2 linked regions of the Homo sapiens genome follow. The protein of the gene in region 2 purifies or fractionates together with the protein of the main gene of each other region. This does not show direct contact. Each region holds a gene or a part of one and is shown on either strand. Other genes may lie near its edges.

Region 1 (3,113 bases), on a different chromosome or scaffold from region 2:
GCCTAGCTCTTCAGGTGAGCGGGAAGAAGCCATTTGTTTCCTACTCTGCCCTACCACTGCAAAGACCTCGGTAGTCCAGGGCAGTTGGGGCCTGACTGAGCCTCTCAGAAGCATCTCCTGCCATCCCACAAGCTCTCTCTCTGCCCTAGACCTGGACAGGCAGGGAAGAGGGTTTCCTGTGGCCACCTCTGGGGCTGCAGCCCCAGCTCCCTTGGCATGTGGCTACAGGAGAACATGACTGTGTTGCTTCCTTTACTGGCTGCTCCCACCCCTCCTCCCAGGGCCCAGCCCTTGGCCTTTTTTGGGATCTAAGAGGAGAAGCAGCAATGACACCCTCAAGCACAAGCTCCCCTCCTCCCCCTCTGGAGGACAGTGCCAAAGCAAGTCCCTCCTACAAAGTCCCCCCTTCTCATTTCCTCACTCAGATATGTTCTTTCCTGCTTTGAGGCTCCCCGTTGGTGTGCACTAGAGAACCTGGGTAAGGACCAACAGATCACCAGGCAGTTCCATCCAGGTGTGTCCCTAAATAGCATGCGTTCATGACGCTGGCTCACTTTATTTTTGGCCCCAGGTCAGGTCTCCCAAAGGGTTTCCCAGCAGTCACTTCAGAGTCTCCTGCAGAGTCACCATCAAGCAGACCTCTTCCTCGGGAGGCCGTGTCGCCACCCCAACCCTTGACTTCTGGTATCACCATCTCCTGTCACCTGGGCTCCAGTCTCTGTCCGATGGCCTCAACAGGACATCAAAGCATAGCTACCAGTTTGAAGGTGCCCTCAGGCTTGGCAGGAACCACGTGGACAAAAGTCTTGTAGAGCACAGCACCCTTGGGCAGCCTGGTGATCAGATCCACAGCCTCCGTGTTTCTGGGATGAGGCACGTAGACCTCCTTAGTGTAGCGGACTATCCCCTCTTCCAGGGCATACAGACATTTATTCTTCCCAACACCCACCTGCAACACACAGACCTGGTCAGCTGGTCAGCTGGTCAGCGAGGTGGTCCGTCCCAGAATTTTGGGACAGACTTCTCACACAGAGCCGGGCCCTGGGGCTGAAAGGGTGATCAGAGAGCTCCATCTCAGGTTCCCTTTCCCACTGGCTAGCACGTCCAAACCTTCTGCTTCTTTATTGACTCATAACAAATGAGGGAAAAGAAAGCTCCAACAGCCAACATGGGCCACTGCTCAGTCCCAGGGACTGTTACCTGGAGCCATGTCTATGCAGCTGGTCAGAAGCCACACTGCACAAATCCCAAAACCCAGGAAGATGCCCTAAATCTTCACTTAGACTTAAACAACACTAGAACTGTCATATTAAAACACTAGTTTGATGTAAATTTTCATTTAGATAGTGATCTATAAAGTTTAGGCTCTATGGAAAATATAAACCAAAGCTATATGGATAATGCATATGCTAATAAAACAATCATACTACTGCATTAGCTAATACCCATGTAAGCCCTTTAATACACATTAAGTCATTTAATTCTCACCTAGTGAAAGAGGTATTATTTCCAACGCCACTTTTCAGATGTGAAATATGAAGCAGAGAGATTAAACTGTGTTGTATATACAGTTTTTAACCATATTTTTTAGCTTTTTCTTTTAGAACTTCAGGCTGGGTGTGTGGCAAATTTTACCCAGGTAGTCCAGCATTATTCTCTGTCTCTCTGATTAAAAGAATGGGCTCTGGAGCCAGGATGCCTGGTTCAAATACCAGCACTGCTACTTACTCCTGTGTGGTCTTAGGCAAGTTACTTCACTGTGCCTCTATTTTTTCGTCTGTCAAATGGGGATAATATTAACTATTTTACAGGGTCATTTTGAGGATTAATGCTCAACAATCATAAAGGGCCTAGAATACTGTCTAGCTCAAAATGTGTTAGCTTTGATTATTATTGTTGACATAGCCACACATCTAATGTCTTAAGTTCTAAAAGGTAAAAAGCTACTACATACATAATCAATTCACATACAAATTAGCATCTTTGAAATAAATACAGGTTACTATCAACCTTTTTGTACCTACTAAAATTATCGAAAAAGGGGTGGGGGAGGGGAAACTGTTTACAAAGGCAACTAATATTTAAAATAATGTGGAGAGTACAGTATCGTTATGTCTCTGTAACAAAGAACTGTCCTACCCTATAAAAATGATGCCAACTTGCTGAAACTGAAATCCCCACCTGGTATGAACCTAACTCCTGGCACACTGAATTCTATTTCATTAAATTCAAGCTATCTTTCAACCATCTGCAAGTAAGTTTATACAAAGGAAGAAGTCTTAGAATAATGAAAAACTAATAAATTGAAATTAGTTTCCCAAGACTAAAATAATATTTTAAATCACCAGGTATCTTGTCCTCCAAGAACTGAGGGTTAGAAAGGAGAACCAAGAATACCAGGCCAATGCAACACCAGGGCAAATCATAGTGATCTGGGAGTTAGGCAGACCTGGTGCAAATCCCAGCAGTCACTTGCTCCTTCCACCCCGTCTAGGTCTCTGGCATTTCACCTTACTTACAGGGATGTGGTAAGGAAGAAATGAGATCGTGTAGGCATGGGAATCAGCACAATGCTTGCCATTTGGTAAGCACTCAATACATGCAACTGTTATTACCATGCTTAGGGGCAAGGAGAGGTCAACCTAGAAAAGGAAAAAGGGGGGCAGCAACGGAGCAACTCACATGGGCACCTGGGTGCCAGCGGAAATGGCGCTGTGTTGCAATGATGTTCCCAGCATGAACATAGTGACCTAGAAGAGAAGTCCACAGTGACTGGGGCAGCATAGCAAACTACCAAGAAAACATGATGGCCCAAATGCTGCACACCAACCTCCAAGCCTGCCCCTGGCCAAAAACAACTCCCAGACAGTCCAACACAAGCAGCGCAGGATCTGCCACCCAGCAGCTCTTGTCTCTAATTGCATGGTTATGGCTCACACCCACCCACTCGATGACCCTTCCTCAGGTCTTATCCGTTCCTTTAAACTGGAGCCAATTATGATGGTAAGGAAGAACAGGGCCAGGCACACGCAGGGTTCTTCTGCTCTCCTAAGGAACATGAGGACAGGGTGCAGCTAGGAAGGGGAAGCCAAGGCACATCCTCACCTTCCATT
Region 2 (8,055 bases):
CTTTTTTTTTTTTTTTTTAATAGAGACACGGTCTATGTTGCCCATGCTGGTCTCAAACTCCTGGGCTCAAGCAATCCTCCTGCTTCAGTCTCCTAAAGTGAGCCACCATGCCTGGCCGGAACTCTTGTTGCAAGAACAATAAGCATCCACTACTGCAGCTGAAAACATCCCTGACAGACCCATCTCCCTGGTATTCAGGGAGGGATGGACTAGGCAATGATTCAGAAGTCATACTGAAAAGCTGCCCTTTTCCTACTGGTGCCCCTGCAGTGTGAGCCCAAGCAGACACATACTTCAGAGGTGCTACATTTGTGCTACAAAGCACAGATCCTTCTTGACCTGGAGGCCAGCCTTACCCACTGAGACCAGGTTCCTGTAGTTCTCCAGCATCACTTCCCTGTACAGGGACTTCTGTTTGAGGTCCAGCAGTCCCCACTCTTCCGGGGTAAAACCCAGTGTTACATCTTCAAAGGTCACTGGTTCCTAAAAATCCAGATTCTTGTTCAGCCACAGGCCATCCGCATCCACGACAAAAGAAAGACAGGGGAGGCTGACCAGGCCAGTGAAAGCACAGAATGGTCTACAAGATGACCCAAGGGCATTTTGGGAGTCTCATCCTGAGTTCCTGTCTTTGTCTGAAACCCCAAGCAAACCCAAGCTTGACTCTATTCAGGTTACAATAAGGAGAGCAACACATGAGATCTCTGTAGCATATGAAAATCTGTCCATTTTATTTATTTATTTATTTATTTAATTTATTTATTTATTGTTTTGAGACAGAGTCTCACTCTGTCTCCTAGTGGAGTGCAGTGGCGCAATCTTGGCTCACTGCAGCCTCCACCTCCCAGGTTCAAGCGATTCTCCTGCCTCAGCCTCCTGAGTAGCTGGGATTACAGGCGCATACCACCATGCCCGGCTAATTTTTGTATTTTTAGTAGAGATGGGGTTTCACCATGTTGGTCAAGCTGGTCTCGAACTCCTGACCTTGTGATCTGCCTGCCTCGGCCTCCCAAAGTGCTGGGATTACACATGTGAGCCACCGCACCCGGCCCTATTTTTCTTTTCTTTTTTTTTTGAGACGGAGTCTCTCTCTGTCGCCCAGGCTGGAGTGCAGTGGCGCCATCTCGGCTCACTGCAAGCTCCGCCTCCCCGGTTCACGCCATTCTCCTGCCTCAGCCTCCCGAGTAGCTGGGACTACAGGCGCCCGCCACCACGCCCGGCTAATTTTTTGTATTTTTTTAAGTAGAGACGGGGTTTCACTATGTTAGCCAGGATGGTCTCAATCTCCTGACCTCGTGATCCACCTGCCTCGGCCTCCCAAAGTGCTGGGATTACAGACGTGAGCCACCGCGCCCGGCCCCCTATTTCTTATTCATTTGAAAATTCTGACTTTGGGAGTGGTGCGTATGCCTCCTAGGGAATTCTCTGAGCTGCACCATCACACCCAAGCCGTCAGCCCCTACCCAGGGCCCTGATGCTTCTTTCTATCTCCTTCACCTGTCAGGGATCCATCCTCACCTGTCTTTTCTACTTGTTATTGAACTCTGCTGCTGTCACCTCTTGCTTGATGCCAATTTATCTGCTGAAATCTAAACATAAGCCTGATCCCTGCATAGACCTTTGGGAGGCCGAGATGGTCGGATCACCTTAGGTCAAGAGTTCCAGACCAGCCTGGCCAACATGGTGAAACCCCGTCTCCACAAAAAACACACACAAAAAATAAAAATAAAAAAAAAATTAGCTGGGTATGGTGGCACACGCCTGTAGTCCCAGCTACTCGGGGAGGCTGAGGCAGGAGAATCACTTGAACCCAGGAGGCGGAGGTTGCAGTGAGCCAAGATCGCGCCACTGCACTCCAGCCTGGGCGACAGAGGGAGACTCCATCTCAAAAAACAAAAAACAAACAAACAAAAGACCTGTCAATTACTCTTCCCAATATAAAGGATACAAGCAAGAGCCTTAACCTGGCCTTCAGAAGCCCCTACAATCTGGTCTCTATTCTAACTACACCCTTGGAAAACCAAGCAACCTGCGGTTCCACCATCACGCAGGATCTCTCATGCCCAACCAATCTCTACCCCCTCCCCGAGGTGCTCTGGAGGATGGGGGTATCTCAGGGAAGGTGGTATCTCACCACCATCCGCATCCTCCCAGGTGCAGTAGCGGACTCAAAAGCTGAAGGAAGCCTCTACTCACACAGGACCAGGCCGTCGGAAGCCTGGAGGCCATAGTTTCCTCCTTCTCAATGTGTCTCTGGTGGAAGTGGGCAGAGTCCTGAGGAAACCGAAGTTGGGAGGGGAGGGAGAGGCTTAAGGTGTCCGCTGGGGAGCTACCGCAGCCTCCGCCCAGGAACGGCTCCCTCAGCGGGAAATGACAAGTCCACCCAAACTGGAAAACGCCCAGAGTGAGTCATAGGACTCCCACAGGACTGGATAGGACCAGTTTTCCCCTCCCCGAGAGGACACCGAGCCTCCTCTGTCCCGCGCATCGGAGGGGATCGCCTCCCTGGCCCAGACCCCACGCTTCCGGAGGCGATCTGTTCTCTCCACCGCGGCGCCCCGAAAGCACTGTCTCCCCTCGGGGTTCCGGGTCACCGACCCCATCCCACAGAGCGGCGGGAGGACTGCAGGCACGGCCGGCTCAGGGTACCCGAGCTCGGCGGAAAATGCAGAGGCCGCGCTCGCCCCCAACTAACGGTTCTGGACCCGCCCAGCGCAGCCCCCGACGGACGCAGGTTTCGCGCGGCACTCACCCGGCGCGCGCCGCACAATGGCGCCCGTCGGCCGGCGGCGAAGTGCGTCAGCCCGCCGTCCCGAACTACAACTCCCAGACGCCCCCGCGGCGCGCCAGCTTGCCTCACCCAGCGGCGGCCATCTTGACTGGCCGGTTAGGGGCGGCAGGCGAAGCCGGGGACAGCAGGAGGAGGATACTCGTCGATGTCCCTCGGCGGTCCAGCTAGGCAAGGGGAGGCCTCTGGTGAGGGACGCTAGGCCGCAGGGCCCCACACTAATGTGGGCGGCGACCCGAGCTGGGAGAGAGTCGTGCCCTGCCACGAAGGCGACCACTCTTGGGGCAGAGCAGAAGCTGGAGAAAGGAAAGGCGCTGGACAGGGGTCAGGCCGGAAGTGCTGGAATGGGTGATGCTTGGTTGGGTGGCGGTGGGGGCGGGATTAATTATGACGTCCCTTGGGAAGAGGAAGGGCGGGTAGGGCCGGAAGTGCAGGGGGCGGGCCTAACTGGCCGTCCATCTGGGTGGAGGGGCGGGGACAGGGAGGGCGGGGAGAATGTAGGAGGCGGGGCTAGAGTCCACGCAACTTTTGGGGAAGGAGGGGGACTGGAAGACGGAAGTCGCGGGGGGAGTGGGGAGAGGTACTGAAGTTCCACCAGTTTCAAAGTCGAGAAAGAAGGGGAGGACTGGGAGAGCCGGAAGTGTGCAGGAGTTGGGACTGACGGCACTTATGTTTCTGGGAGATGGGTCCTGCCTGAAAGTGAGGGTGGACAGGGCCAAGTGTCCACTCAAGGTCAGGGAGGGGAGGGAAACTCGGAGGACCGGAAGTGTGATGGGAACGTGGCCAAACGTCCACCCTAGTTCTGGGGATTAGAGGAAGGGAGTAGGAAGGTCAGGGGTGTGCAAGGGGAAGGAGGGAAGACTAGGTGGACCACAAGTGTGATGGGAATGAGGCCAAACGTCTACCCTAGTTCTGGAGAGATGATCAGGGCTAACTGTACCCCAGGCATTGGGGAGGAGGAGCAGGATCCTCTGCCTAGTGTCCCCCTGTGGTCCAGTTTGCTCCTGGAAGCTGAGGTGCTCATGTCTAGGGAGAGGAAACCTAAGTCTGTAGCTGTCCAGGACCTGGTGTGTGCCACCCATCCTTGGGCCCAGGGTGCTCTCATCTTCCTTGGGAGCTCAGGACAAGGAGGTATTCTCTTGGCTTCCTCAAGGACCGACATCTGGTGTTTTCTTATCTTCCTTAGGTCCCAGGTCCCAGTATGGTCTTGTCTTCTTGGGACCTGAGGGCCCTAATGATCTCTCTCAGTGCTCAGGACCCTGTGTCCTCTTTCTTGATATTTCCTGGCAGGTCTCAGCAGCCCTCTGCCTCCCTCTGGTGGTCGTGTACACTGCCTGCTAAACTTGTTCCACGGGTTGTTGGTTTTTTTGGTCACTGTGGAGGATCCAACCTCAGGCTACACATTGTTTAATTGTTGCTGTTAGTGTGTTGATTTTGGCATAGGAGTATTTACTCAGAGACTGTGCAGATATCTTATAGTCTAATAATATTTCATTGGATTTTTCGTGTCTATTATAGATACAACACCATCCCCAATTAATAAGTAATTTGATATCTTCTTTTTCCATATTTCAACTTTAAAAAATTAACATTGTATAGTCCTAGCTAGTATGACAGAGCTATGTTAAGTAGTCATGTTTACTAATAGTCTTGTTTTGTTCTGGATTTGAATAGGATACGTCTAGCCCTTCATAATCACAAGGAAGCAAACCCCCTTGGAAATTCTTTTTTTTCTTTCTTTTTTTTTTTCTTGAGACAGGGTCTTGCTCTGTCACCCCGACTGGAATGCATTGGTGCGATCACAGCTTACTGCAGCCTCCACCTCCTGGGCCCAAGTGATCCGCCCACCTTAGCCTCTCAAATAGCTGGGACAGGTGCACACCACCACACCTGGCTTTTTTTTTTTTGGAGACAGAGTCTTGCTCTGTCGCCCAGGCTGGAGTGAGGTGGCACAATCTCGGCTCACTGCAACCTCTGCTTCCTGGGTTCAAGCGATTTTCCTGCCTCAGCTGCCCAAGTAGCTTGGACTACAGGTGTGTGCCACCATGCCTGGCTAATTTTTGTATTTGTAGTAGAGACGGGGTTTCTCCATGTTAGCCAGCCTGGTCTCGAACTCCTGACCTCAGGCAGTCTGCCCACCTCAGCCTCCCAAAGTGCTGAGATTATAGGCATGAGCCACCCCGCCTGGCCTCTTTTGTACTTTTTTGTAGAGACAGAAACCTCACTATGTTGCCCAGGCAGGTGGAAATTCTTCTAATGATTTCTTTCTATTTATGTGGTATAGGATAAAACCTGATTTTTGATTAAAAGAATTTGTTTTTGAGACAGGGTCTTGTTCTGTTGCCCAGGCTGGAGAGCAGTGCTGCAGTCATGGCTTACTGCTGGCCCAACCTCCTGGGCTCAAGTGTTCCTCCCATCTCAGCTTTCCAAGTAGCTAGGACTGACTACTGGTGTGCATCACCACACCTGGCTAATTTTTAATAAATATTTGTGTAGAGATGAGGTCTCAGTGTGTTGTCAGGGCTGGTCTTGAACTCCTGGACTCAAGCAATCCTCCCGCCTTGGCCTCCCAAAGTGCTGGGATTGCAGGCGTGAGCCACCATGCCTGACCAAAGATGTTTTGTTTTTTTTTTTTTGTTTTGAGACAGAGTCTCGCTCTTTCGCTCAGGCTGGAGTGCAATGGCGTGATTTCGGCTCAACTGCAACCTCTGCCTCCCGGGTTCAAGTGATTCTCCCTGCCTCAGCCTCCTGAGTAGCCGGGCGTGCCACCATGCCCGGCTAATTTTTGTATTTTTAGTAGAGATGGGGATTTGCCATGTTGGCCAGGCTGGTCTCGAACTCCTGACCTCAGAGGATCCGCCCACCTCGGCCCCGCAAAGTGCTGGGATTACAGGCTTGAGCCACTGTGCCCAACCTAAAGATGGTTTTATATAAGCATATTATTGAAGATTGATTTATGAGAGCCATTTTAATTCAACTTTTAATAACTGCATACTCTTTTCCTGTTTAGCAAATTAAATATGCTGTTTATTGTAATTTGTAAAATAAAAATGACTTCTGAAGAAATGTTAACTATTAAACATGTAAAATGTTGAAAAAATTTATTCATCGTTGTTGGATTTAGACAGTGCCTCGATTGCTTGTTCAAAACCTTCTGAGCCAGATGTATTTTGGAATTCATGATCATTTGGATTTTAGTAGGATGGTAATGTATTTACACCATACAGTGTGTAAATCCCTAAGAGGTGTGGGGTAGCACCTGCCATCAAACACATGAGTATATCTGTAGCAAAATACAAGAAGATTTACACTAGGTGGAAGAGAGACAAAATATAAATAGCCTTGTTCATATAAATTTTGCAGACTCATAACAGGGAGAAATTTTCTGTTAGAAAATATCTGGAATTTTGAATTACATAGAAGGCATTATGGATCATAAGTGAAAATGTGTGTTGTAGAAATAGTAGTTATTTCATTCAATTGCAAAGTTTAATTTTTACTTTTTCTCTCTTAATATAGTCTGCATAGGGCCAGGTGCGGTGGCTCACACCTGTAATCCCAGCACTTTGGGAGGCTGAGGTGGGTGGATCACCTGAGGTCAGGAGTTCGAGACCAACCTGGCCAACATGGTGAAACCCCGTCTCTACTAAAGGGGGCTCCATCTCAAATATATATATATTCCACATAGTCAGGCATAGGTTTATTGAGATACTGAGTTATTTAAATATATTAATATTTTTCCATGTGCTTTTTTTTTTTGAGATGGAGTTTTGCTCTTGTTGCCCAGGCTGGAGTGCAATGGCACTGCAACCTCCGCCTCTGCCTCCCGGGTTCTAGCGGTTCTCCTGCGTCATTCTCCCTAATAGCTGAGATTACAGGCAGATGCCACGACGCCCAGCTAATTTTTATATTTTTAGTAGAGACAGGGTTTCACCATGTTGGTCAGGCTAGTTTCGAACTTCTGACCTCAGGTGATCTGCCCATTTTGGCCTCCCAAAGTGCTGGGATTACAGGAGTGAGCCACTGCCCCTGGCCCCATATGCTTTTTTAAATCAATGGTCTACTGTTGGTTTAAATTAAACAACATATGGCCGGGCGCAGTGGCTCACGCCTGTAATCCCAGCACTTTGGGAGGCCAAGGTGGGCAGATCATGAGGTCAGGAGATCGAGACCATCCTGGCTAACATGGTGAAACCCCGTCTCTACTAAAAATACAAAAATTAGCCGAGCATGGTGGCGGGCGCCTGTAGTCCCCGCTACTCGGGAGGCTGAGACAGGAGAATGGCATGATCCCAGGAGGTGGAGCTTTCAGTGAGCCGAGTTTGTGCCACTGCCTTCCAGCCTGGGTGACACAGCGAGACTCCATCTCAAAATAAATAAATGAATAAATAAATAATAAATAAACAACATATGACTAAGAATAAAATATGTAAAGCTATAAGTTGGCCCAAACCATTATGGCAGCTGGACCATTATGGCAGCTAGTGGTGTTCAACTGAGTCCTAAGCCAGCTGTGCAACTGAATCATGGACCCAGGATTTGATCTCCACTCATCATTCTCTGTCTCTGTTTCATCACACAGAGCATCTCAAATTGTTCCATGTAAAGGGGGATACATTTTAAAATCATTTTTAAAAAGAAGAAAGATGTGTCTTTCCATCTTTGAAATGTGAGCTTTGAGGACACCTCTCTGAACTTCTGAGAGCTTGGGAATGTAAGGTTACAGAAGTATGGATAAATTAATGTGCATTTGAACTATAAATTATTAATATCATAGCTTTTTTCCCAGAAAAGAGGCTCTTTGGTTACTGCTGCTCATTCATTCTTTGCCTGTTTTCCCCAACATCAAAGGTAAACTCACCATCAAGATAATCCACACTGGACATAACACATGGGGGAAAGGCTAAGAATTTGGGCTCTGAGCAGAGGCCGATCACAAACAACCTCCAGAAAACGGCCTGCCTCAAAGAGGAATGCAGGAAGTCCACAGAATGCCGGACAAACCAGTGAGGCAGGTTTGGAATAATCTAGTACATGCCTTTGCACCCTGTATCCGTTAAGGCATGTTTGGTTGGAAATAAATAAAAACCCAAATAACCAACGCCGTTTTCCCACAAAGAAAATCTGCAAGTATAGGTCTTTTCTGGTGCTGGTTAAGCTGCCCACTGAAGTCACGGAGGATGAGGCTCACTCTTTCCCTCTTGCTGTCCTTAGTGTGGGGCATCTTTTCTTTAGGCCATTAGGATGTAGACAAGGAACAAGCCAGC

The links.
Region 1: the proteins of ZNF274 (region 2) and MRPL27 purify together in Homo sapiens (affinity purification with mass spectrometry; 2 studies listed by BioGRID and IntAct, with this or other methods). This does not show direct contact.

What each region holds. Positions count from the first base shown.
Region 1 is NC_000017.11:50,367,350-50,370,462, forward strand, and holds the end of MRPL27 (large ribosomal subunit protein bL27m), read right to left. Parts: coding exon 3,106-3,113; intron 2,751-3,105; coding exon 2,683-2,750; intron 950-2,682; coding exon 743-949; 3' UTR 518-742; downstream 1-517.
Region 2 is NC_000019.10:58,178,140-58,186,194, reverse strand, and holds the start of ZNF274 (neurotrophin receptor-interacting factor homolog), read right to left. Parts: upstream 3,135-8,055; 5' UTR 2,753-3,134; exon of another isoform or gene 2,275-2,752; 5' UTR 2,230-2,274; coding exon 2,197-2,229; intron 499-2,196; exon of another isoform or gene 484-498; coding exon 357-483; intron 1-356. UniProt on the Homo sapiens protein: Probable transcription repressor. Specifically binds to the 3'-end of zinc-finger coding genes and recruiting chromatin-modifying proteins such as SETDB1 and TRIM28/KAP1, leading to transcription repression.